Linked DNA regions of Homo sapiens. The protein of the gene in region 1 purifies or fractionates together with the protein of each later gene. This does not show direct contact. Each region holds a gene or a part of one and is shown on either strand. Other genes may lie near its edges.

What was found.
Region 2: the proteins of TTLL12 (region 1) and USP34 fractionate together in Homo sapiens (co-fractionation; one large-scale study listed by BioGRID). This does not show direct contact.
Region 3: the proteins of TTLL12 (region 1) and UFM1 fractionate together in Homo sapiens (co-fractionation; one large-scale study listed by BioGRID). This does not show direct contact.
Region 4: the proteins of TTLL12 (region 1) and RPRD1A fractionate together in Homo sapiens (co-fractionation; one large-scale study listed by BioGRID). This does not show direct contact.
Region 5: the proteins of TTLL12 (region 1) and PPME1 fractionate together in Homo sapiens (co-fractionation; one large-scale study listed by BioGRID). This does not show direct contact.
Region 6: the proteins of TTLL12 (region 1) and SLX4 purify together in Homo sapiens (co-immunoprecipitation; one large-scale study listed by IntAct). This does not show direct contact.
Region 7: the proteins of TTLL12 (region 1) and ACTR2 fractionate together in Homo sapiens (co-fractionation; one large-scale study listed by BioGRID). This does not show direct contact.

The regions. Positions count from the first base shown.
Region 1 is NC_000022.11:43,170,135-43,173,634, forward strand, and holds part of TTLL12 (tubulin--tyrosine ligase-like protein 12), read right to left. Parts: intron 2,421-3,500; coding exon 2,269-2,420; intron 1,767-2,268; coding exon 1,685-1,766; intron 1-1,684. UniProt on the Homo sapiens protein: Negatively regulates post-translational modifications of tubulin, including detyrosination of the C-terminus and polyglutamylation of glutamate residues. Also, indirectly promotes histone H4 trimethylation at 'Lys-20' (H4K20me3).
Region 2 is NC_000002.12:61,345,588-61,349,087, reverse strand, and holds part of USP34 (ubiquitin carboxyl-terminal hydrolase 34), read left to right. Parts: intron 1-201; coding exon 202-332; intron 333-607; coding exon 608-1,218; intron 1,219-3,500. UniProt on the Homo sapiens protein: Ubiquitin hydrolase that can remove conjugated ubiquitin from AXIN1 and AXIN2, thereby acting as a regulator of Wnt signaling pathway.
Region 3 is NC_000013.11:38,359,851-38,364,119, forward strand, and holds the end of UFM1 (ubiquitin-fold modifier 1), read left to right. Parts: intron 1-190; coding exon of another isoform or gene 191-216; exon of another isoform or gene 217-860; coding exon 861-928; 3' UTR 929-3,769; downstream 3,770-4,269. UniProt on the Homo sapiens protein: Ubiquitin-like modifier which can be covalently attached via an isopeptide bond to lysine residues of substrate proteins as a monomer or a lysine-linked polymer.
Region 4 is NC_000018.10:36,057,560-36,061,059, forward strand, and holds part of RPRD1A (regulation of nuclear pre-mRNA domain-containing protein 1A), read right to left. Parts: intron 1-3,500. UniProt on the Homo sapiens protein: Interacts with phosphorylated C-terminal heptapeptide repeat domain (CTD) of the largest RNA polymerase II subunit POLR2A, and participates in dephosphorylation of the CTD by RPAP2.
Region 5 is NC_000011.10:74,177,789-74,181,288, forward strand, and holds part of PPME1 (protein phosphatase methylesterase 1), read left to right. Parts: intron 1-3,500. UniProt on the Homo sapiens protein: Demethylates proteins that have been reversibly carboxymethylated. Demethylates PPP2CB (in vitro) and PPP2CA. Binding to PPP2CA displaces the manganese ion and inactivates the enzyme.
Region 6 is NC_000016.10:3,601,607-3,605,106, reverse strand, and holds part of SLX4 (structure-specific endonuclease subunit SLX4), read left to right. Parts: intron 1-2,799; coding exon 2,800-2,989; intron 2,990-3,500. UniProt on the Homo sapiens protein: Regulatory subunit that interacts with and increases the activity of different structure-specific endonucleases.
Region 7 is NC_000002.12:65,268,792-65,271,753, forward strand, and holds the end of ACTR2 (actin-related protein 2), read left to right. Parts: 3' UTR 1-2,462; downstream 2,463-2,962. UniProt on the Homo sapiens protein: ATP-binding component of the Arp2/3 complex, a multiprotein complex that mediates actin polymerization upon stimulation by nucleation-promoting factor (NPF).

The DNA.
Region 1 (3,500 bases):
GCCCGCCATCCATGCCATGCTGGACGTACCTCCCCAGGCACAGAGCTCCAGGAGAGGACTCCCGGGATGACCCCCACAGTACAGAAGGGAGGGGCTCAGAACCTGAGGGCGACTTCCAACAATGTCCTGGGGCCCTGCTGGGGGGTCTGGGTCCTAGGGAGTAGGCTTCAACACAGGCAAGGATAAGACAGACAGAAGCAACAGGACCACTCGGCCCCTGTGGGGAGTGTGTGCTGGTATAGTCACCAGTGCATGGCAGGGCCCTTTCTCCAAGTCCTCCTAGAGGACTCCTCGGACATGGGCATGGCCAGGTGCCTCCACGCATGTTCACGCGCCATGATTTATCATTAGTGAAGACCTCAGATGACCAATCGCCGCCACAGTTAGCAACAAGCCCGAACCTCAAAACCTCAAAACACGCCACTCAGCCAACAAAGCAAGCTGCAGAAGGATCCGTTGAATAAGATGATATTTACATAAAAACCTAAGTAGGAGGCCGGGCATGGTGGCTCACGCCTGTAATCCCAGCACTTTAGGAGGCTGAGGCAGGCGGAGCGCTTGAGTCCAGGAGTTTCAGACAAGCCTGGGCAACATGGCGAAACCCCGTCTCTACTAAAAATACAAAAAAATTAGCCGGGCGTGGAGGCACGTGCCCGTAGTCCCAGCTACTTTAGGGGGCTGAGGCAGAAGGATGGCTTGGGCCCAGGAGATTGAGGTTGCAGTGAGCCCAGATCATGCCTCCGCACTCCAGCCTGGGTGACAGCGTGAGACATTGTCTCTCAAAAAAACAAAACAAAACAAAAAACCTAAGTAAGCAAAACAGCAGCTTGAATGGTCAGGAACATACTCCTGCTGAAAAGAACCAAAGACATGCCTGGGAATGACAGCCACACGTTCAGGGGTCGGGGAGCGTTGGGGCTGGCTGCATGGGGAGTCCGCGGCACCTGCAAGGCTGGCGACAGGCAGGGTGGGGTAGGTGTTCTGTGCATCTGAAACACTCATTAACCAGCCAGGCCACAGAGGCCTTCCAGGACTTCCTTTCTTCCTTCCTGTACCCAGAGCTGGCCTCCTGCTTCTGTGCAGGCTGTGCCTACCTGTCCACGTACACTGGCTGGCCAGCTCTGGTTTCTCGCCCCCACCTTGGAAGGGCCTTTGTCCAGATGCCCCTGAGCTCCAGGTGCTCAGATGGTGCAGCTGCCATTCACTGAGTGCCCACTGCATGGGGCACCGCTCAACACTGTGCACCAGGGAGGACAGGAGGTCCTAGACCCGGGCAGGGTCACGGGCCAGCAGCCAGCCGGACCAGGTGGGGCCTCCCCGCCCCCGCCTGCCCTGGCACTCACAGGGTGGTCTGCTTTTCCGGTTGAAGTGGTGGTGAGGAGTAAGCCCCGGCTGGGAACACACTGTCTCAACCTGCTGCTGGACCCATCCCCCTCTGTGTCCACATTATCTCAAACACAGCCAGTGGCCCTCTGTGCCGTGGGGAGACCTACCTGAGACAACACAGAACCCAGCCTGGCTCATGATGGCAGCGCTAACAATCGCCTTCCATAGCAGGAACTCAGGAGGCGGCTCCTGGGACTGGCCTGTGTGCCAGTCCTCCTAGGAGGCAGTGTGGGCGGGGTGGGGTCGGGTGTGCCCTGGCCTCTGTGTGAACCTGCTCTGCACCTCCCTCAGGCCCTACCTGCTTCAGCACCACATCCGGGTCATAGTTCATGACCGTGAAGTGCTTCTCGTAGTCATCCAGGTCGTTGAGTGCAAAGGCCCTGGAAGACAAGTGTGCAGACACATATGGGTTCTTGAGCGGCCTTGTCCCTGCGAGGGAGGTGCCACCCACTCAGCCTTCCCAACTAGGGGTTCAGGGCTCAGGGCAGGACCACCTGCTGCTCAGGCGGGAGCCTGTTCCCTTGTCTGTGTGGCTGGGGGAGCCCCACAGCCCCACTGAGCTGGGGTGGAGGTGAGTGAGGTGCTAGCTGTGAAGCCTCTGCAGGTCCATAAAAATGGCACCTGGTTCTCATGTTGGTGCCCATTTTACAAAGAATGTTCACATCCATTACTGTGGGCAACACCAGAACTCTGAGGTGGGCAGGGCAAGTCACCGCCAATTAACACCAAGGGAGATGGGCTCCAAGGGCCGCTAGCTGGGTGAGTGATGGAGGGTGCCTTCCAACAACATTTTCTGATTCCAAAAAGGGCCCATCACCCACCCGCTACCTCCACCCGGTCACCCAGCTCCCCGACCCTGGACCCAGCCGGCCCTCCACTTACCGGTTGGAGAACCGCAGCCAGAACACATCATACACGAACAACCGTAGGGGCCTCACTGACCGCAGCAGCACGATGTAGCGGATGTCGAACTTGACCTTTCCCACGTCTTCTCGAAGGAACAACACGGGACTTTCGATGTACTTGGACACAACCTGGAGGACACAGGTGCAAGCTCGCTGGTGGCCAGGACAGAGCCCCCTGGGGCTCCCGAGCACACAAAGCCACGCAGGGGGCACAGACATGGCTGCACTTTACTCCTCCTTCTGCCTTTTCAAACCTGCCTAAGTTGCTGCAAAGTCTTTTTTTTTTTTTTGAGACAGAGTTTTGTTCTGTTGCCCAAGCTGGAGTGCGGTGGCACAATGTTGGCTCACTGCAACCTCTGCCTCCCGGGTTCAAGCGATTCTCCTGCCTCAGCCTCCTGAGTAGCTGGGATTACAGGTGCCCGCCACCACCCCCAGCTAATTTCTGTATTTTTAGTAGAGAAGGGGTTTCTCCATGTTGGCCAGGCTGGTTTCGAACTCTTGACCTCAGGTGATCCGCCCACCTTGGCCTCCCAAAGTGCTGGGATTACAGGTGTGAGCCACCGCACCCTGAAGCAAAGTCTTTATATCCATTTTTAATTGAAATGAAATATAAATTCTCACCCATAATTCCATCCACCCCCATCCCATGGCCTGAAGTCTCCACGACAATCGTCCTCATGATGCATTTCCCGCCAGCCTCTGACTATGTACACAGTCCAGGCAGATCCTGTGTCCTGCAATCCCAATACTGCTTCTGGATGTCCCCTCACTATGAATCTTTACCACGGCTCTGAGAGGCTCCTTGTCCAGGCTCAGCCACCTCACCCTGCTGGGCAGCCATACCTGGCACACTATGTGGTAGGAACTTTGCGATTAGACGCACCCAGGACAGTTCTTTTTTTAAAGACTGGGTCTTGCTCTGTCGCCCAGGGCGGAGTGCAGTGACGCGATCACAGCTCACTGCAGCCTCAACCTCCCGGGCTCAAGTGATCCTCCTGCCTTAGCCTCCTGAGAAGCTGGGACTACAGGTGTGTGCCAACATGCCCAGATAATTTTTAAAGTTTTTTCCCTTGTAGAAACGAGGTCTCCCTATGTTGCTCAGGTTGGTTCCAAACTTCTGGGCTCAAGTGATCCTCCTCCACTTCCCAGAGTGCTGAGATTACAGGTGTAAGCCACCCTGCCCAGCCTGGACCTGTCCATAAGGACCAT
Region 2 (3,500 bases), on another chromosome or scaffold:
TCTTAAACATCTTGACTTTTAATTGAATCTTACATCTTCTTTAGAAATCATGAGCAAATGTTAACATATTTAGAGATTTTATTTTTGGCTACTTAGCATAAAGCTTTGGTAACTAGGTCAAGGAATCAAATGATAATGTCATTCTGTTAAGTCAATGTTAATATAAATTAGAAGTAAAAACAAAAAATGTATTTTATATAGGGTCACCTGCAGCTAGTCCTCAAAGCAGTGATAATAGCGATACACATCAAAGTGGAGGTAGTGACATTGAAATGGATGAGCAACTTATTAATAGAACCAAACATGTGCAACAACGACTTTCAGACACAGAGGTATGAAAATAGGTTTTTCTTCTTTTATAGGCATTTTTGGCTTTCTGGCGTGTTTATCATTTGAATTGGGTATATATACATAATTCATGTTTGGGCTTGTCCTCTCCTTTACGTAATATTTTTGACATCCTTTGAGTTTTTAATTCCATTTTGTATTGTTCAAAGGAGTATAACAAGACTGGCAGCCTTTTTAAAAAGTACAGTTTATTAATGTTGGTTACCTTTTTTCTTACTGGTTTAAATATTTATTTAAATCTATTTGTTTCAAAATACAGGAATCCATGCAGGGAAGTTCTGACGAAACTGCCAACAGTGGTGAAGATGGAAGCAGTGGTCCTGGTAGCAGTAGTGGGCATAGTGATGGATCTAGCAATGAGGTTAATTCTAGCCACGCAAGCCAGTCAGCTGGGAGCCCTGGCAGTGAGGTACAGTCAGAAGACATTGCAGATATTGAAGCCCTCAAAGAGGAAGATGAAGACGATGATCATGGTCATAATCCTCCCAAAAGCAGTTGTGGTACAGATCTTCGGAATAGAAAGTTAGAGAGTCAAGCAGGCATTTGCCTGGGGGACTCCCAAGGCATGTCAGAAAGAAATGGGACAAGCAGCGGAACAGGAAAGGACCTGGTTTTTAACACTGAATCATTGCCATCAGTAGATAATCGAATGCGAATGCTGGATGCTTGTTCACACTCTGAAGACCCAGAACATGATATTTCAGGGGAAATGAATGCTACTCATATAGCACAAGGGTCTCAGGAGTCTTGTATCACACGAACTGGGGACTTCCTTGGGGAGACTATTGGGAATGAATTATTTAATTGTCGACAATTTATTGGTCCACAGCATCACCACCACCACCACCACCATCACCACCACCACGATGGGTAAGCCTACTTCAAAATAAATATTCAGTTCATATTTCCTTTAGGGAAGTATTATATCCTATATTCAATTTGCAATTTATTCTGTATTAGTGCTATTCATTAGTAGTATAGTGCAAACTATAAATGTAAGCTACAAATAGATAATTTCAAGTTTTCTATTGGGCACATTTAAAAACACAAAATGAAGCAGGTTGTTGGCCATGCACAGTGGCTCACACCTATAATCCCAGCACTTTGGGAGGCCGAGGCAGGTGGATCACTTGAGGTCAGGAGTTTGAGACCAGCCTGAACAACATGGTGAAACCCCATCTCTACTAAAAATAGAAAAATTAGCCGGGCATGGTGGTGCACGCCTGTAATCCCAGCTACTTGGGAGGCTGAGGCAGGAGAATCACTTGAACCTGGGAGGTGGAGGTTGCAGTGAGCTGAGATCACACCACTGCACTCCATCCTGGGCAACAGAGTGAGACTCAAAAGCAAAACGTTGAACAACAACAATAAAAAACCAGGTTGTTAATTTTAATCATGTTAAACCAATAATATCCACAATGCCATTTACACATGTAATAAGTATAAAAATTACTAAGGTATTTCCTTCCTTTTTTTCTTACCAAGTCTTCAATATTTAGTGCATATTTTATACTTATAGCACTTTTCAATTTAGACCAGCCACCCTTTAATTCTTTAAAATATTTATTGATTTATTTGTTTTCTTCTTCTTTTTTTCTTTGAGACAGGGTCTCGCTCTGTTGCCCAGGCCGGAGTGCAGTGGCACGATCTAGGCTCACTGCAACCTCCACTTCCCAGGCTCAAACAATTCTTGTGCCTCAGCCTCCTGAGTAGCTGGAATTACAAGCACCCACCACCATGCCTGGCTACTTTTTTAGTATTTTTAGTAGAGATGGGGTTTCACCGTGTTGACCAGGCTGATCTTGAACTCCTGACCTCAGATGATCTGCCCGCCTCGGCCTCCCAAAGTGCTGGGATCACAGGTGTGAGCCACCAGGCCCGGCCTTTTTTTTTTTTTTTTTTTTTTTTGAGTTGGAATCTCACTCTGTCACCCAGGCTGGAGTGCAGTGGCACAATCTTGGCTCACTGCAACCTCCGTCTCCCAGGTTCAAGCGATTCTTCTGCTTCAGCCTACTGAGCAGCTGGGACTACAGGTGCCCCCCACCCCCCACCCATGCCTGGCTAATTTTTGTATTTTTAGTAGGATGGGGTTTCACCATATTGGCCAGGCTGGTCTTGAACTCCTGACCTTATGATTCGGCCTGCCAAAGTGCTAGGATTGCAGGCGTGAGCCACTGCACCTGGCCTTTTTTTTTTTTTTTTTTTTTTTTTTAAGAGATAGGGTCTCACTTTGTCACCTAGGCTGTAGTGCAGTGATGTGATCATAGCTCACCGTAGTCTCAAACTCTTGGGCTCAAGCAATCCTCCTGCCTCAGCTTTCTGAGCACTTGAGACTTAAGGTGTGTGTTGCCACTCCTAGCTAATTCTTAATTTTTTTTTTTTTTTTTTATAGAGACAGAGTATTGCTATGTTGCCCAGGCTGGTCTTGAACCCCAGACCTCAGTGCTTTTGCCGCAGCCTCCCAAAGCTCTGGGATTACAGGCGTAAGCTACTTATACCCAGCCTAGACCTACCATGTTTTATGTGTGTAATGGTCACATATGGCTAGTTGGTATTATATTGGATAACACAGGATTAGATTTTCAACATCTTGTAATAAATGCCTAAAAAAGATATGAGTGCTTATGGAAACTTTCCTAAATTGTGATTAAGAAAGGGAAATTTTACACATCTAATTTTAGGGTATTTAAAAGGGTAAGCTCCAGCATAAAACTTTTTGGTTATCTGTGAAATATACCAAATAATGTGATTCTGTCACTTAGTGGTGGTATTATGATGGGCAAAATAATTAATTTTTCTTCATTTTTTCAATCTATAAAATGGGAACAATAATCCTAGTGCTTTGGAGGCTAAGGCAGGAGGATCGTTTGAGGCCAGGAGCTTGAGATCAGCCTGAGCAACTTAGTGGGGCCCTGTCTCTACAAAAATATTAAAAACACTAGCCAGGCATGGTATCACACACCTGTAGTTCTAGATAATTGGGAGGCTGAGGTGGAAGGATCGCTTGAGTCCAGGAGATCAAGACTGCAGTGAGTGGTGATTGCACCACTACACTTCAGCCTGGGCAATAGAATGAGACTCTGTCTCTAAAAATAAAATGGGCACAATAGTATCTATCTCATGGTTTTATTGTGAGGATTTCCTGGGCTAAC
Region 3 (4,269 bases), on another chromosome or scaffold:
CTTTATAAAAAGAAGTCTAAAACTTTTTTAAAATTAGTTTTATATTTTTAAAATGTAATCTCTTAGGCTTATAATCTAAAGTTTTAAAATTAGGCATGCTTTAATGTAACCTCATTCTAGAGCAGTAGTTATTTTTAAATTATATTCTAAAGTATTTCTTTATTGTAACAAAATTATGTTGTTTTCACAGGCCTTGCAGTTGAAATTCAGCCATAAAGAAAATGAAGTGATTTAAAATTGCAAATTTTTGTTACTTCAGTAGTTGTTAATATATAATTTTATTAAAAAGGTTTATTGAAAATCGTGAGGCACTTTATTGTATGGATGCCTTTAAACTTAGTAGACAAAGGTTTCTTTTTTTCTTAATCGAGAAACTTTCAATATTTTACAGTAGTTTGAATTACTGCTAACTCTAACATACTGCTTGTTTTATTATCTTTAAAAATTGAATGTGCATATCCTTGATATGAAGAAAATCTCATCAGGCAATTGACCCCAAATATGTCAGGGTATCTAAATTTTTGTCACTTGTAGTAATTTACATTTTTTTTCCTGTCCTTAGATATATTATTGTGTATTGAAGGAAGTATTCATGATTAAATTATTCACAGTTACTTGATGAAAGTATTCGTCAGAGTTTTCATGGCTGGTGTTATTTTAAATTTTAAGCGTATGTTGGATTGTGAAGATAGGAGAATAGGAACAAGACTTAAAAAGCTTGGAATTGGGGTCTCATGATGCTTGAGCTTTTGTACCCATTTTACTGTTTACTAAATCATTTATTATATTTAATAATTGTCAGAATATTAAGATAACTTGATTTTTAGATATCTAACTTTATGTTTTGTTTGTTTGTATAGGAAATGTTTTTCTAAAACATGGTTCAGAACTGCGGATTATTCCTAGAGATCGTGTTGGAAGTTGTTAATATCTGCTACTTGGAACATACGATTGCCTTTCAGAATAAATATTGGTATTTTTTGTTGTTGTAAAATTGAAATCAGGCATTTAACATACTATGAAAACACCAGGAGTCAATGATTAATGAAAGGTGACTCATCTGTCCCTTTTTGTTGTCCATACTCTTCCTATGAAGAGGGAATGCGTATGAATTAAGGCTACTACTGTCACAGAAGATCATAGTCTTTGATGCTACCTCACAACACAAACAGGTAGTTCGTTGGGGGCAAATGAATTAGCCAACTGTTAACTGGAAGCTTTTGATAATTTTTTTTTTTAGAACAATTTGGAACATTAAAATTTACTGAATCGTATATATTCATCTGAGATAAAAATATAAAAAGAATTATGGACCCTGGATGGCAATTTGCTTGATAGCATCTGATTTGCAGACTCATAATTTGATTTTTAATTAAATATATAGGTTGTGATGAAGTGAATAGACATATCAGTGAACAGTTAACTATATTAAATTTTTATCATTTACTTTTTTTAAGATTCAGACCTCAGTTATATAAATTTCAGTTTAATATCAACCAAAAAATTAAAATTTTAATCTAACCCTTATGTGTATAAATTGGTGTCCCATACCAGCTTTTAATGGTGGACCTATAGAATCCAGTACTTTTAATGGTGGGAATTTACAGTAGAAGCATCCTTTGCTGAGTTATACATTCCTTTATCAATCTCTTTTGATACAACATTTAAAACAAGTAGCTTCAAGAAACCACTGGTGTTTTGAGGATAGTATTTCTAAATAGCATTCAGGAACAGAGTATTATTGCACAGATCTGAAGATCAAAAAAAAGCTCAAGGAAATACAGATCGGAAGTGCTGATGAGTTATATTTATTGAAAACCCAACTTTTAAGGAAGTGCTAAGATCAGTCACCCATGTGAATAAGAAGCCAGGAAAGGAAAGATGGGGAAGCCCAGATCACCAGGCTTCTATTAAGGAGGAAAGCAACAGAGGAAACAGTGAAGGGGAACAGAAGGGGGTAGCAAAGTGTTACAGAAAAGCGGACTGGATAGACAAAACTGCAGAAGGTGTATGTTGGGGAGAACTGAAAGGGAAAACAAAATACTTGACATAGTCTTAAGTAGAAGAAGGCAGTTAGAGAAAACAAAGTATCTACTGGCCTTGTCAACATACAGACTTCAAAATACCCCTTATGAGAATCCAAAGAATGATGTGTGTAAGGGAAGATTTTATTTGCCCTTCCGGAAGAAATCAGTATCTATGCAAATCTTGAAAGACGAAATCAAAGCCCATTAATGATTCAGAATCAGTGCTTGACCTCCTGTATTCTGAATGGTGAACTCTGGAAGCAGGGATTGTGTCTGGCTCTTTTTAGAGCTGGAAATGTAGTGGCTTTCATTAAATACTTGCTGTAAAGTCTTTCTAAGACCAATTATTATCTTAGCATGTTTCAGTATCTTCTCTATCATAGGCCCTAAGTTCATTGGGGGAAAAAAAATAAGAAGATTCAACAGAATCAGCATTTGAAGTGTACCATTGGTAGTTGTTTATGAAATTACCAGATATTCATAAATGTGACAAATGAACAGCAGGATTATGAATTATCAAAGGAAAAAGTATTTGCTGAGGTGAAAAAATCTGATGTTTGAGGAAGTTTTTATTTTTATTTATTTGTTTTGTTTTTTTTTTTTTGAGGCAGACTCTCTGTCGCCAGGCTTCTCCTGCCTCAGCCTCACGAGTAGCTGGGACTACAGGCATGCACCACCACGCCCAGCTAATTTTTGTATTTTTAGCAGAGACAGGGAGGAAGTTTTTATTTTTATAAACAAAATCTGATGTTCAGAGGCCCCGTTTCTTACAATAAATGTTGAGTCTTAGTTAAGCAGGAATTTATGAACACCCATTTCCTGACTTTTTGCTTTAATTTAGATTTTTCTCCATCCTGTTTCTAGCACAAAAATTTGCCTGCTGTGTTACAAAAATAAATTTATGTTGTCCTGTGCCATAAAGTGATATATTTAATATTTTTATTCTTTGGTTTTGAACATTGTAAGTTCCTAAAAACATTTTATTAAACAAGTAGACATTTTGTTATTAAAAAAATGTGATCTGTAATTTCTTTGTGCAGAATGATTTGAAGTATTGTATTCAGTTTACATGCGTTATTGGTTTATAATTAATATCTAATGAAAATACATGTTGTTATATTGTAAACCATATTGTCTGTTCTTATTATTAGAGCTCTTAATCAGCACACCTTTTGAGTCAGTATATAATACATGTAGTAAAGAAAAAAAGGGCAAAGATGATTAATGACCATAAGTCAGAGAAATTAGTTTATAGTCATCTGCCACAGACATAGTAGTGATGTTTCGTCCAACAACAGACCGCATATATGACCGTGGTCCCATATTACTATATTTTTACTGTGCTTTATCTATGTTTGGATACACAAGTACTTACCATCATTTTACAGTTGTTTACAGTATTAGGTACAGTAACATGCTCTACAGGTTTGTAGCCTAGGAGCAATAGGCCATACCAAATAGCCTAAGTTTGTAGTAGGTGACATCAACTAGGTTTGTACAAGTACATTCTGATGTTCACATAGTGACAAAATTGCCTAAGGAAGCATTTCTCAGAATTTGTTCCTGTGATTCAGTGATACATAACAGTACTTGCAAATGCCTGTCCATTTTACAGACGGAAAAAAAAAAAAAAAAAGTTGAGAAGAAAATGGGGTTATTGTAACTGGCTAGGTTGGTAGGTTCCAAACCTGGGTGATAACAGAGTCGCCTAGGAAATTAAAAATACAGATTTTTGGAAACCACTCCTTGAATTCTGATTTATTACATCTGTAATAATATATAAAGATCCTCTGTAAACAGGAGTTCTGGTGATTTCTGCCATGCAGGTGGTTTGAGAATTAATGAGAAGGCCACCTTTTCACTTTGTAGAAGAACAGAATGAGGTCTAAGGGGTCAAAGTAAGTAGAATATGTTCTGGAATCTTGGACAGTGCACTTTCCAATGCTTGGTAAGTAGCCTGAGGTGAAGGTGCTAGCTAACAGTCTCACTCACTGCACAACCTTTGAAGTTTTTCTCCGGGAGGTGGGGGGCAGCCCCCGCCCGGCCAGCCGCCCCGTCTGGGAGGTGGGGGGCAGCCCCCGCCCGGCCGCTGCCCCGTCTGGGAGGTGGGGGGCGCCTCTGCCCGGCCGCCCAGTCTGGGAAGTGAGGAGCCCCTCTGCCCGGCCGCCACCCCGTCTGGGAGGTGTACCCAACAGCTCATTGAGAACGGGCCATGATGACGATGGCGGTATTGTCGAATAGA
Region 4 (3,500 bases), on another chromosome or scaffold:
TGAGATCATGCCACTGCACTCTAGCCTGGGTGAGAGAGTAAGACCCTGTCTCAAAAAAATAAATAAATAAATAAAAGTTTATCTAAATGTGTATTATCCTGTCTACCTCCAGAAAGGACTTATGAACAGAAATGTTCAATTTGAAAAGTCAAATAATGCTGTTCTACATAACACCACATTCAAATGATTACAACAGCTAAAACCTATGTCTATATTCTTGGTACAGCTCCTAGTAAATTCTACATATACTTCAAATCTTAAACCAAAGGACCCTTCCCTGATTCCATAAACTAGGATAGGTTCCCAATTACATTTCTCCTTTGTATTACTGTGCAGTTACTAGTTTGGCAAAGTCCATTTGCCTGGCTGATATGTAAGCTCCATGAACACAGCTGTATGTCCCTTTATCTGCTCAATCATCCTTGTTCACTAAGACAGTAAGGAGGTCAACAAGTATTTCTTGAATAAAGAAACCTAATAGAAGAAACTTCTTGTATTTTTTGTGACAGGGTCTCACTCTGTTGCCCAGGCCAGACTGCACTGGTCAGATCATGGCTCATTGCAACCTCTGCCTCCAGACTCAAGCAATCCTCCTACCTCAGCCTCCTGGGTAGCTGGGACTACAGTCATGCACCACCACACCCTGTTAATTTTTGTATTTTTAGTAGAGACAGGGTTTTGCCACGTTACCCAGGCTGGTCTCAAACTCCTGGCCTCAAACAATCCACCCGCCTCAGCCTCCCAAAGTGCTGGCTGGGATTACAGGCATGAGCCACTGCGCCCGGCCAGAAAACCAACAGAAGAAACTTCTACTTGTACATTTTGAATGAAAAATTTATTTTATCAAGAAAAAAAGCCTGTAAAATTACAGATTGTTTGTTTAATGTAGGAACACACTTTTATTTTTATAAGAAATGTAGAGATAATTTGTTGAATCAGATGTAAAAACATCAAATCAACAACTTTTTTTAAAAAACCTTAACGTCACAGGAAAGAGAACCTAAATAAAATTACGTTACGGGCCAAAGGGAAATTTTATAAATTCAGTTTCTGCTTTTCTGGGGAATTAATATTTTAGAGGGATATGTCTGCTTAAGGCAAAGCAATGTATCCTAGTCTCTTGATCTAATTATCAATATTCAGAAAATGGTCCACTTCTCAGCCAACAGTCTGTGGATTCCAGGGGGTCAAGACACTTTCATGGGGTCAATTAAGTCAGAACTACTTTCACAAGAATGCTCATCTATTATTTGCCTTTTTTCACTCTCATTCTCTCACAAGCGTACAGTGTTGTTTTGCAGAGGTCATGTGATACAGCAAGACTGAATGCAGAAAAAGACACGAGAATTCAGCAGGCTTCTATTAAGAGAGATCTTATAAAGATCTGGAAAAATGTAAAATAATCACTCCTTTCCCTGGTATTTTTTAGCAAATATAATTGGTTTTCATTAAAAATGTTATGTTACGATAATTGCATGAGGTAATGGATACTAACTACCCTTATTTGATCATTAGACCAACATATACATCTATCAAAACATCAAACTGTATCCCATAAATACATACAATTACAATGTGTCCATTTGTAATTTTAAAAATCTTTTTTTTTTTGAGATACAGTCTGTCACCCAGGCTTGGAGTAATCTCAGCTCACTGCAACCTCCGCTTCCCGGGTTCAAGTGATTCTTGTGCCTCAGCCTCCCAAGTAGCTGGGATTACAGATGTGCACCACCACGTCTGGCTAATTTTTAAATTTTTAGTACTGACATGGTTTTGCCATGTTGCCCAGGCTGGTCTCAAACTCCTGACCTCATGTGATCTGCCTGCCTCAGTCTCCCAAAGTGCTGGGATTACAGGCATGCACCACCATACCTGGCCTTAATTAAAAATTTTTAAAATATTATTTAACATGAATCGATTTAGTATTATAGTTTTAAAACAAATAATTATTAAATAAATTTTTAAGTGTTTTAATTTCCAATGTAGTAACTAGCGGTAGATATAACCCACATAAACAAAAGATTTAGAATCTTCAATTTTTAAGAGTAAAGAGATCCTCAAACCAGAAAGTAGGAGAAATTCCTGGTCTAGAATAAGAATTTCTTTGGAACAACCAATTTGATTTTTTCAAAGAATACATTTAAAATAAAAGACAGATGGCACCCATAGATGTAAAGGAACTTTATTTACATAGTAATCAATTGCAATAAATGAACTTTACTTGGATCCTGATTCAAACAAATGGCTTCTAAAAAAGTGAAATGATCACGGAAATAAATACTGGCTCAATATTTGATATCTTAAGAAATTAAGTTTTTTTAAGTGTTAAGAAAGACTATAACTATTGAAGCTGCAAGATGACTACATGGGAGTCACCATGTCAGTTTGACAACATTAATCCTTTTAAATATAAGAACTTAGAAGGTGCTAGCATTGTCTACTTACTTTTTCAATTCTAACTCTGAAAGAGAAACAAGTAACAGTATCAGACAATATAAAAGCCACTGAACTGTCAATTTAAAACAGACTCTCTTCATTTTTAGGATTTATATTGCTATATATTTTTAAAGCAAATGAAAAATGTTCTTTTGGCCGGGTGTGGTGGCTCGCGCTTGTAATCCCAGCACTTTGGGAGGCCAAGGTGGGCGGATCACGAGGTCAGGAGATCGAGACCATCCTGACTAACACGGTAAAACCCCCATCTCTACTAAAAATACAAAAAAATTAGCCAGGCATGGTGGCGGGCGCCTATAGTCCCAGCTACTTGGGAGGCTGAGACAGGAGAATGGCATGAACCCGGGAAGGTGGAGGTTGCAGTGAACCGAGATCGCGCCACTGCACTCCAGCCTGGGCAACAAAGCGAGACTCTGTCTCAAAAAAAATAAAAAAGAAAAATGTTCTTTCACTTCTCCATTTTTCTAAAACCAAATTAATAAGAACAGCCAAGAATATACAGTACTTATTTTAGCACATCTTACAAGTTTAAGCCGTATTAGTGAATACGAATGTTAATTCAACGAATATTTAAAAACTTTCATCAAACGCAGTATGCTGGGGAGCTAAAAATTGAAATAGGTAAACAACCTGAAGGAGCCCACTATCTACTTCACAACCAATATGTAACCCCCCAACCTATAATACAATATAAAATGGTAATTAGTTCCCTGAAAGATATCTAACATAGCTTATTGAAAAAGTGATGATTTCAACAAATGATTACAAATAGGAGGAAAATCTAAACCTTAAATAATGTATTATTTTAATTGTTGCCAACCCTAGAAAAAATAAGCCCAGCATGGTAGTGTGCACCTGTAGTCCCAGCTACTCGGGAGGCTGAGGCAGGAAGATCACCTGAGCCCAAGAGTTCAAGAGCAGCCTCGGCAACATAGTGAGACACTGTCTCATAAAAAAAAAAAAATTTAGGAAACAAAGTTAACAGGCATTCAAAGGCTGACCATTTCCAGGTTTGGCTCTTTGCATCCAAAGCTATGTATCACCTC
Region 5 (3,500 bases), on another chromosome or scaffold:
AAGAAATATGGTATCTTTCAATTTGTATGAATCCCTTTTGAAGGAAATATATTTCAGATTCCAAGTATTGACCTAAGTTATATTCAATCTAATATTACTTAAATTCAATAGTACTCTTAAATAATTGTGAAACTCAGTAGATTTACTCTTTAAATACAATTAAGTCTACAAAAATCCCCAAACTCACATTAGCAACATTATATTGATGTGAAACAATCTAATTTGCTGTTATCAGTTTACTGTAGTTTAAACTACAAGGACATTTATTATTGATAGGATGTTCCAGGGTTCATTCAGTTGCTAAACAATTTCATTCAGGACCCAGGCTGTTTGCATCCTTTCTTTTGCCATCCTTAGAATGGTGGCTTTTCCTTCTCTTGCTTGTCACCTTATGGTTGCAGGATGGCTGCTGCCACTCTACTTCTATCTTATCTTTACAAATAAAAAGAAGCGGGGGCCAAAGTCCTTTCCTAGCTAAGCTTGTCTTTTAATTTTTTCCCAGAAATGCAAGCTCCCCAACAGATTTTTCCCTTAAGTCTTATTGTCCAGAACTGTTCACATACCCATCCTAAAACCAATCACTGGCAGTAGGGAATGGGATTAACTATGACTGGTTTAGACCAATTTTGATTCATTCCCTTGGACTGGAGGAGAGACAACAAGAGATCTCCACTAGCTGCTCAAACAAAAGTATTACAATTCTGTTAGGGAAGAGAGAGTGGGAAGTGGGCAGGTAATGTCTGGAATAGAGAATAAACAGCATCTGGCCCAAATCCTGAGGTTAACAAGTGGAGAAGCCTAATCTTCTGATTTCAACTTCCCTACTGTTTTCATTGCAGTGTAAGTATAGGAAGTAATAATCCCACCCCCAACTCCCCTGCCCCTTATTGCCAGATTTCAGCCCCTTGACATTCATTTCAGAACTTCTGAGTAAAAGTCCGTTTTTCCATTGTTGCTTATTGCCAGCAAATCTATTTCTTCTTAGTATCTCCAAAATTGGGTAATTTGCTCTTTTGTTTTATTTTAAACCTAATGAGCCTTCCATGTTATGCTACTTGATGTCAGATTTCAGAAAACATCTCTAGTTGTTTGGGAAAGACTGTTTCCTTCAAACTACAAAATAGTTTTTTTTTTTTTAAGAGAAGAAACTTTTAATTAATAGTTCTATTAAGAGGGTGGCCACACTTAGATATTCTTCAAATACAATATTGATTACAAGTTACAGGTATATTCTACCAATATATTTTGAAGATTGAATAAGAGATTATATTGAAAATTCCAATCATTTCAAACCACACCGGAAGACCGAAGTTGTTTACTTATCAGTCCTTTTCCTATATGCTTCTGTGTGTGTTTTTGGCCATAGACTTTTTCCAGGTTTAAGTAGACATCCTCTCTCTGCCACTAACAAGTTGTATGACTCTGGTCAGTTTCTCTTCCTGGGCCTCGTTATCATGGAAAGAAAGAACGCTTTGGCACCTGACGTACTTGTTTAAATCCAAGCTCCCCAGCCTGGGCAACATAGGAAAAACTTGTCTGTACTAAAACAAAACAAAACAACCAGGCATGGTGGTGCGCACCTGTTAGTCCCAGCTACTTGAGAGACTGAGATGGGAGAATCACTTGAGCCTGGGAGTTTGAGGTTGCAGTGTGCTGTGATCGTGCCACTGCACTCCAGCCTGGGAGACAGAATGAGACCCTATCTCTAAAAATAGTAATTATAAAATAAAAAGTCAAATCCAAGCTCCGGTGCTACCAAAAATGGCTCTGGGAAAGTTATTTAGTATTTCTGAGTCACCTTAAAATGAGAATACTTTAATGGTACTGTTCAAAACCATGCTTGGTACGTAATAAACACCTAGTTGTTTCCTTTCATAAAGTAAGATTTGAGTTAGATGATCTCTAACAGCATGATTCATGATGTAGTTTTTAGAATCCTGAAGTCTGCTGCTTAATGGCATGCCTTGGAGTAAGGAACACTTCAGACCTACCACAACCCTCAGCCAGCCATCTGGTTGCTTTCTTTTCATTCTCTTCAAAGTACTGCTAATAAGGACATTTTAAAAACAGTGGTGCCTTGATTTAAATAGCTGGCTGCAATTAAACTTCAGTATTTAGCCTCCACTACCAGACTCCTAGACTTTGACAGAATTTGTGACAACAAGTGATTAAGACTGCTACTGTGCCCATTCATGACTCATCAATAACTCTCTTAACAGACTTAAGCAGCCTAGATGTTGATGTGTTATTCCTATTTAGATTTGAGACATTCATGTAAAAACATACAACTTACATTTCTTGGTTATTGTTCTCTAGGCAAGGAAGGTTTTTCCTCCTTCCCTTTCTCCCCTTTCTCTCCTTCCTCCTGGCTTTCCTTAGGATTTGATCATATAATTTTGTTGGTTTTGGTCATTATCTCCTAGTAGGCATATCACATTGTAGACAAGCAGAACATTCTCTATTCTCCTTAGTCCTCTGAATTGTAATTATTGGTCAACTGTGTATTCCTCAAAACTGTTGAGGTTCATAAGGGTAGGAATTGTGTCTGAATTTTGCTGGTGCTTAGAATGCTGTCTCCTTTAGTGCTAACTGAACGAGAAACCCAAATCCTGGCCTATTTAACCCCGTTCTATAAGAACAACGTTATTTCCCCATCAGTTCCCTTAAGATGGTATAACTAGGGCTATACTGCCTTTCTCCTAAAAGCGGTTATACTTCATAGAATAATAGAATCTCTATTTCAATACCAGCTTTTAGGTAAAATGTATTGTGTTTACAATATGTTACTTTGAGATTTAAAATAATTATATGGTCGAAACTCTTGTAATAGGTCTTGTAATAGGCTTGTAATAGGTCTCATGATATGTACAGATTCAGGCTTGTTACTTTTATTTTATCAAAATTTGACAATTTATGTCTTCCTCTTTGATTCCCCAAACCTGAAAGCAAGTCCACTATTATAAGACAGCAAATGTCAATTAGCAATTATTTTCACACTAGCCTTATTTTATAGTATTCAATTTTTCTGCCCTTGCCCAATTTATCACTTATTCTCTAAGAGCGAAGACTATTTTCCAAGCACCTTCACCAAGTTTAGGGACCAGAGCAAGTGGTCCACCATTAAAGGCTAGTGTTAAAAGCGCTCCAAAGTCATGTCCTAAGCAGTGGTAATTTCCTAAGTGTTTCTTGCACTTAACAATTGCCAAGTTTATTTTGTTGGCAATGCCTTCCATTTTCTTCACTTTTTTTTTTTTTTTTTTTTTTTTTGAGACGGAGTCTCGCTTTGTCGCCCAGGTCGGACTGCGGACTGCAGTGGCGCAATCTCGGCTCACTGCAAGCTCCGCTTCCCGGGTTCACGCCATTCTCCTGCCTCAGCCTCCCGAGTAGCTGGGACTACAGGCGCCTGCCACCGCGCCCGGCTAATTTTTTTTTTGTATTTTTAGTAGAGACGGGGTTTCACCTTGTTAGCCAGGATGGTCTCGATCTCCTGACCTCATGAT
Region 6 (3,500 bases), on another chromosome or scaffold:
AAAAAAAATTTTTTTTTAATTAGCTGGGCATGATGGTGCACAACTGTAGTCCCAGCTACTCGGGAGGCTGAGGTGGGAGGATTGCTTGAGCCCAGGACGTTGAGCTGCAGTGAGCTGTGATTGCATCATTGCACTCCAGGGCAACAGAGTGAGACCCTGTCTCAAAAAAAAAAAAAAAAAAATTACAATGAATCCCCTAATCCCCTATACCTCAATCTAGATTTAACAAATGTTAACATTTGGCCATTTGTTTATGTCTTTATAAATATACATTTTTTTTTTTTTTTGAGATGGAGTCTTGGTCTGTCTCCCAGGTTGGGGTGCAGTGGCGCAATCTCGGCTCACTGCAAACTCCACCTCCTGGGTTCAAGCCATTCTCCTGCCTCAGCTTCCAGGAAGCTGGGACTACAGGCATGCACCACCACGTCCAGCTAATTTTTGTATTTTTAGTAGAGTTGGGGTTTCACCATGCCGGCCAGGCTGTTCTGGAACTCCTGACCTTGTGATCTGTCCACCTCAGTCTCCCAAAGTGCTGGGATTACAGACGTGAGCCACCGTGCCTAGCCAAGCGTACATATTTTTCTTCCATATTATCTGAAGGTAAATTATAGACATTAGGATCCTTTACCCCTAGATTCTGCTGCATAACCACAATACCATTAGCACGCTTAATTCCATAATAGTGCCTGGCGTCCAGTTCAAACTCAAATTTCCCTGGTTGTCTCAAGGTTATTTTTTGTAGCTGGTTTCTTTTTTTTCTGAACAAGGATTCAGTAAGTTCACACACTGCATATTGCTGTAGCTCAGCAGTATCCTAAGGTCTAGATTCTAGAATAGTCCCCCATTTCCTTTTGTTTTCCATGACACTGACTTTTTTTTTTTTTTTTTTTGACAGAGGCTTGGCTAGAGTGCAGTGGCACAATCTCGGTTCACTGCAACCTCTGCCTCCCAGGTTCAAGCTATTCTCGTGCCTCGGCCTCCTGAGTAGCTGGGATTACAAGCACCCACCACCACACCCGGCTAATTTTTTTGTATTTTTACTAGAAATGGGGTTTCACCATGTTGCCCAGGCTGGTCTTGAACTCCTGAGCTCAGGGGATCTGCCCTCCTCAGCCTCCCAAAGTGCTAGGATTACAGGTGTGAACCACCACACCCAGCCCTATGACACTGAGTTTTTGAAGAGGCTAGGCTAATTGTATTATAAGATTTCCCACTTTCTGGATTTATTTCTTTATGGGATCGTTAACTCCTTCCTCTAACCATTGGGTTGCCCCACTCTGAGTAGATTAGAGGCTCATTGGCTGCAGGTGAGACAGGGTGGCGACAGTGCCCCATAGCTGCTGTGTACTTGGTGTGGCACCGGCCCAATAAGCGTAATAATGCCAGGTGCTCCTGTTCTCCATCCCCAAAACAATATGGATTCTCATCTCTGATGAAAATATACAAAAGGAAAAGAAATAGGAAGAAACCATTATCGGCAGACCTACAGCTAATAAGTATGCAGGATCTTGGCATTGCATTGCAGATTTCACTGCAGTAGCACGGAGGAGTCTCAGGCCACCCCAGGGTCCACAGCAGGCAGTGATTTGATGTCCTGCCGAGGCATCAGTCCTGGACGCACATGTGAGTTGCAGAGGAGGCACCCAGCTGGTGTGAGCTCCGCCCCTGCCCAGCATTTGACTCAGTTCTCTCTGTATCTTCACATCACACCCAGCAAGTGCTCAGAAAGAGATAAACCATTTGTTTGTTAAGAAACCAAACCAGGCTGGACGCGGTGGCTCACGCCTGTAATCCCAGCACTTTGGGGAGGCCAAGGCGGGCAGATCACCTGAGGTCAGGAATTCAGGACCACCCTGGCCAACATGGTGAAGCCCTGTCTCTACTAAAAATTAGCCAGGTGTGGTGGGCACCTGTAATCCCAGCTACTCAGGAGGCTGAGGCAGGAGAATCGCTTGGACCCGGGAGGCAGAGGTTGCAGTGAGCTGAGATCGCGTCGTTGCACTCCAGCCTGGCGACAGAGTGTGAGACTCCATCTCAAAAACAAACAAACAAACAAAACAGGGCACCAAAATGAAGGTGTGCTGTTTTGCTGGCCTCAGTGGCAGGCACTGGTAGGCCACAGCCATGAAGAACTTGGGGATTTATGAGGCGTTCAGGGCATATCCCTTGTGAGTGACAGGGGTCTGCTCCAGCAATATCAGATGGGCCACCCTGGGAGCCATCTCAAGACCAGAATCAGTCCATTCTTGAGTCTGATGCTAAGTAAGAGATGCTGCCTTTTAAACGCCAAAGGCATTTCACTCTGCCCTGGTTTTATCATGGGCAGTAAAAGGTCAGCAGGAAAGGGTGAGTTTTGAAGAGAACATCTAGCTTTGTTGGAATATGAGCCTTGTGAACTTGCAATGCCCGAGGTAGCCAACTTCAGCAGAAGTGGGAAAGTTTAGGTCCTTGCTACTCAGAGTGGTCCTGTGCTGCCAGCATCGCCAAGCCTGGAGGCTGCTAGAAATGCGGAGAGTCTCAGGCTGCACCTGGACCCCTTGAATTTGAATCTGAGTGTCGACAAGCTTCCCAGGTAATGCATATCCATGTTAAAGTTGGAGACGGCTGTTCCCGGAGTGCTGATTAGTGCCCAGTCTCACTGGACAGTGTCCAAGTCACCAGCCTGCAGAGTGGAGCTGGGTTCTGGTTTCTTTGCGTTCCACCTGCTCCCCATGGTCTGCAGGAGCTGACAGAGCAGAGGTCTGAGGGTGAGCTTGTCTTTGGAGTTTATTCTCACGGATCTTTGGTGCTTCTCCACAGTGTATGGGCTTGGGCCCCCTGCCCCAGAGAGCGACGCTGCGGTGGCCTTGACCCTGCAGCAGGAGTTTGCACGGGTAGGAGCATCGGCACATGATGATAGCCTGGAGGAAAAGGGTTTGTTCTTCTGCCAGATTTGTCAAAAGAACCTCTCAGCCATGAACGTGACCCGAAGGGAACAGCATGTGAACAGGTGGGGGCAGCTTGGGCCGTCGCCTCTCCCGTGTATGTGACCAGAATCCCCAAGCACCCCAGGGCTGGAGTGCGGATCTCCACACCTTACCATGACAACAGCACCTCAGCTTTGTTGTCAACCTACCCCTTTTTAAAAATAACTTCGTTGAGATACAATTCACAGAACATATAGTTCACCCATTTAAACTGAACAAATCACTACTTTTGGGATATTCACACAGTTGGGCAACTGTCACCACAATCACTTCTGGATTATTTTCATCACCCCCAAAAGAATCCCCACACCCATTGGCAGCCACTCCCTATTGCCCCTCTCTCCCCTGACAACCACTAATCAACATTCTGTCTGGATGGATTTGCCGATTCTGAAATTGCACAGTTGTCCTTTTGTGTCTGCCTTCTTTGACTTAATATGTTGTTTTTGAGGTTCATCCATGTTGTAGCATGGAGCAGGCTTCATTCCTTTTTATGGCTGAGCAGTATCTCATTGTATGGCTAGACTGTGTTTT
Region 7 (2,962 bases), on another chromosome or scaffold:
TCTTTGAACTCATTCAACTCCAGGACATGGAAGAGGCCTCTCTCTGCCCTTTGACTGGAAAGGTCAAGTTTTATTCTGGTGTCTTGGGGAAGCTTTGTTAAATTTTTGTTAATGTGGGTAAATCTGAGTTTAATTCAACTGCTTCCCTACATAGACTAGAGGGCTAAGGATTCTGTCTGCTGCTTTGTTTCTTCTAAGTAGGCATTTAGATCATTCCTATAGGCTTCCTATTTTCACTTTACTGCTCTAATGCTGCTAGTCGTAGTCTTTAGCACACTAGGTGGTATGCCTTTATTAGCATAAAACAAAAAAAACTTTAACAGGAGCTTTTACATATTACTGGGATGGGGGGTGGTTCGGGATGGGTGGGCAGCTGCTGAACCCTTTAGGGCATTTCCTCTGTAATGTGGCGCTTTCAACTGTACTGCTGCAGCTTTAAGTACCTTAAAGCTTCTCCTGTGAACTTCTTAGGGAAATGTTAGGTTCAGAACTAAAGTGTTTTGGGTGGGTTTTGTTGCGGGGGGGAGGGTAACAATGGGTGGTCTTCTGATTTTTATTTTTGAGGTTTTGTCAACTGGAGTACGTAGAGGAACTTTATTTACAGTACTTTGATTTGGCAGGTTTTCTTCTACTTGTGCTCTGCCTGGAGCTGTTTCCATATGATATAAAAAGCAAGTGTAGTATTCCATTACTATGTGGCTTAGGGATTTATTTGTTTTTTAAAATCAACCATGTTAGCTGGGATTAGACTCCCTACAGTCCTTCAATGGAAAAGTAACATTTAAAAATCCTTTGGGTAATTCGAATTACAGATTTAAAAGAGCTTAAGATCTGGTGTTTTGTTAATGCTTCTGTTTATTCCAGAAGCATTAAGGTAACCCATTGCCAAGTATCATTCTTGCAAATTATTCTTTTATATAACTGACCAGTGCTTAATAAAACAAGCAGGTACTTACAAATAATTACTGGCAGTAGGTTATAATTGGTGGTTTAAAAATAACATTGGAATACAGGACTTGTTGCCAATTGGGTAATTTTCATTAGTTGTTTTGTTTGTTTTGATTTGAAACCTGGAAATACAGTAAAATTTGACTGTTTAAAATGTTGGCCAAAAAAATCAAGATTTAATTTTTTTATTTGTACTGAAAAACTAATCATAACTGTTAATTCTCAGCCATCTTTGAAGCTTGAAAGAAGAGTCTTTGGTATTTTGTAAACGTTAGCAGACTTTCCTGCCAGTGTCAGAAAATCCTATTTATGAATCCTGTCGGTATTCCTTGGTATCTGAAAAAAATACCAAATAGTACCATACATGAGTTATTTCTAAGTTTGAAAAATAAAAAGAAATTGCATCACACTAATTACAAAATACAAGTTCTGGAAAAAATATTTTTCTTCATTTTAAAACTTTTTTTTAACTAATAATAGCTTTGAAAGAAGAGGCTTAATTTGGGGGTGGTAACTAAAATCAAAAGAAATGATTGACTTGAGGGTCTCTGTTTGGTAAGAATACATCATTAGCTTAAATAAGCAGCAGAAGGTTAGTTTTAATTATGTAGCTTCTGTTAATATTAAGTGTTTTTTGTCTGTTTTACCTCAATTTGAACAGATAAGTTTGCCTGCATGCTGGACATGCCTCAGAACCCTGAATAGCCCGTACTAGATCTTGGGAACATGGATCTTAGAGTCACTTTGGAATAAGTTCTTATATAAATACCCCCAGCCTTTTGAGAACGGGGCTTGTTAAAGGACGCGTATGTAGGGCCCGTACCTACTGGCAGTTGGGTTCAGGGAAATGGGATTGACTTGGCCTTCAGGCTCCTTTGGTCATAATTTTAAAATATGGGAGTAGAAAACAACAAAGAATGGAATGGACTCTTAAAACAATGAAAGAGCATTTATCGTTTGTCCCTTGAATGTAGAATTTGTTTTTGATTTCATAATTCTGCTGGTAAATGTGACAGTTAAAATGGTGCATTATGTATATATATTATAATTTAGAAATACCATTTTATAATTTTACTATTCCAGGGTGACATAATGCATTTAAATTTGGGATTTGGGTGGAGTATTATGTTTAACTGGAGTTGTCAAGTATGAGTCCCTCAGGAAAAAAAAAAAATTCTGTTTTAAAAAGCAATCTGATTCTTAGCTCTTGAAACTATTGCTACTTAAATTTCCAATAATTAAAAATTTAAAATTTTTAAATTAGAATTGCCAATACTTCTACATTTGAGAAGGGTTTTTTTAGAAATACATTTAGTAAAGTCCCCAAGACATTAGTCTTACATTTAAACTTTTTTCTTTAAAACATGGTTTTGGTGGTTAACTTTTACACAGTTCTGAGTACTGTTAATATCTGGAAAGTATCTTGAGATATCAGTGGAAAGCTAAACAGTCTAAATTAACATGAAATACTTCATTTTGATTGAGAAAATAAAATCAGATTTTTTCAAAGTCAATTTGAATTTTGTCATTTCTTTCTAATAGTTATTTCTTGTTTCATTTTCTTGTTAATGCAAGATGAATTGACAGTTTATGCTAGTTGTTAGGTCAAGTTCATGTCAGTGTTCTATTATTGACAAAACAACTCATTATTTCTGGTATGATTTTATAAATACATAAGAAAATAGAATAGCGATTTATAGCTACATCAGAGGCTGTTTTCTTCCAACAAACTGTTTTGTCTCCCAAAAGATTTAAGGTGGCTTTCACAGAATTAGAAATGCTAAAGAGACCTGTATGTAACATGCCCCCTTTCAAGGACATATTAGCTCATCTGCAGACTTTTAGGCATATTATTTTTAACAAATAAAAGAAGGATGAAAATACATTTAACTGACCTTTTCTTGTTTTATACTAGCCTTGAGGATGAGGGCTGGAGAGTAGAGAGAGTATTTTTGCCTTTCCTTCTTCGTGGACTTGTATGTGCAAACCTCATTGCCCGCTTCAGGGCCGGAGT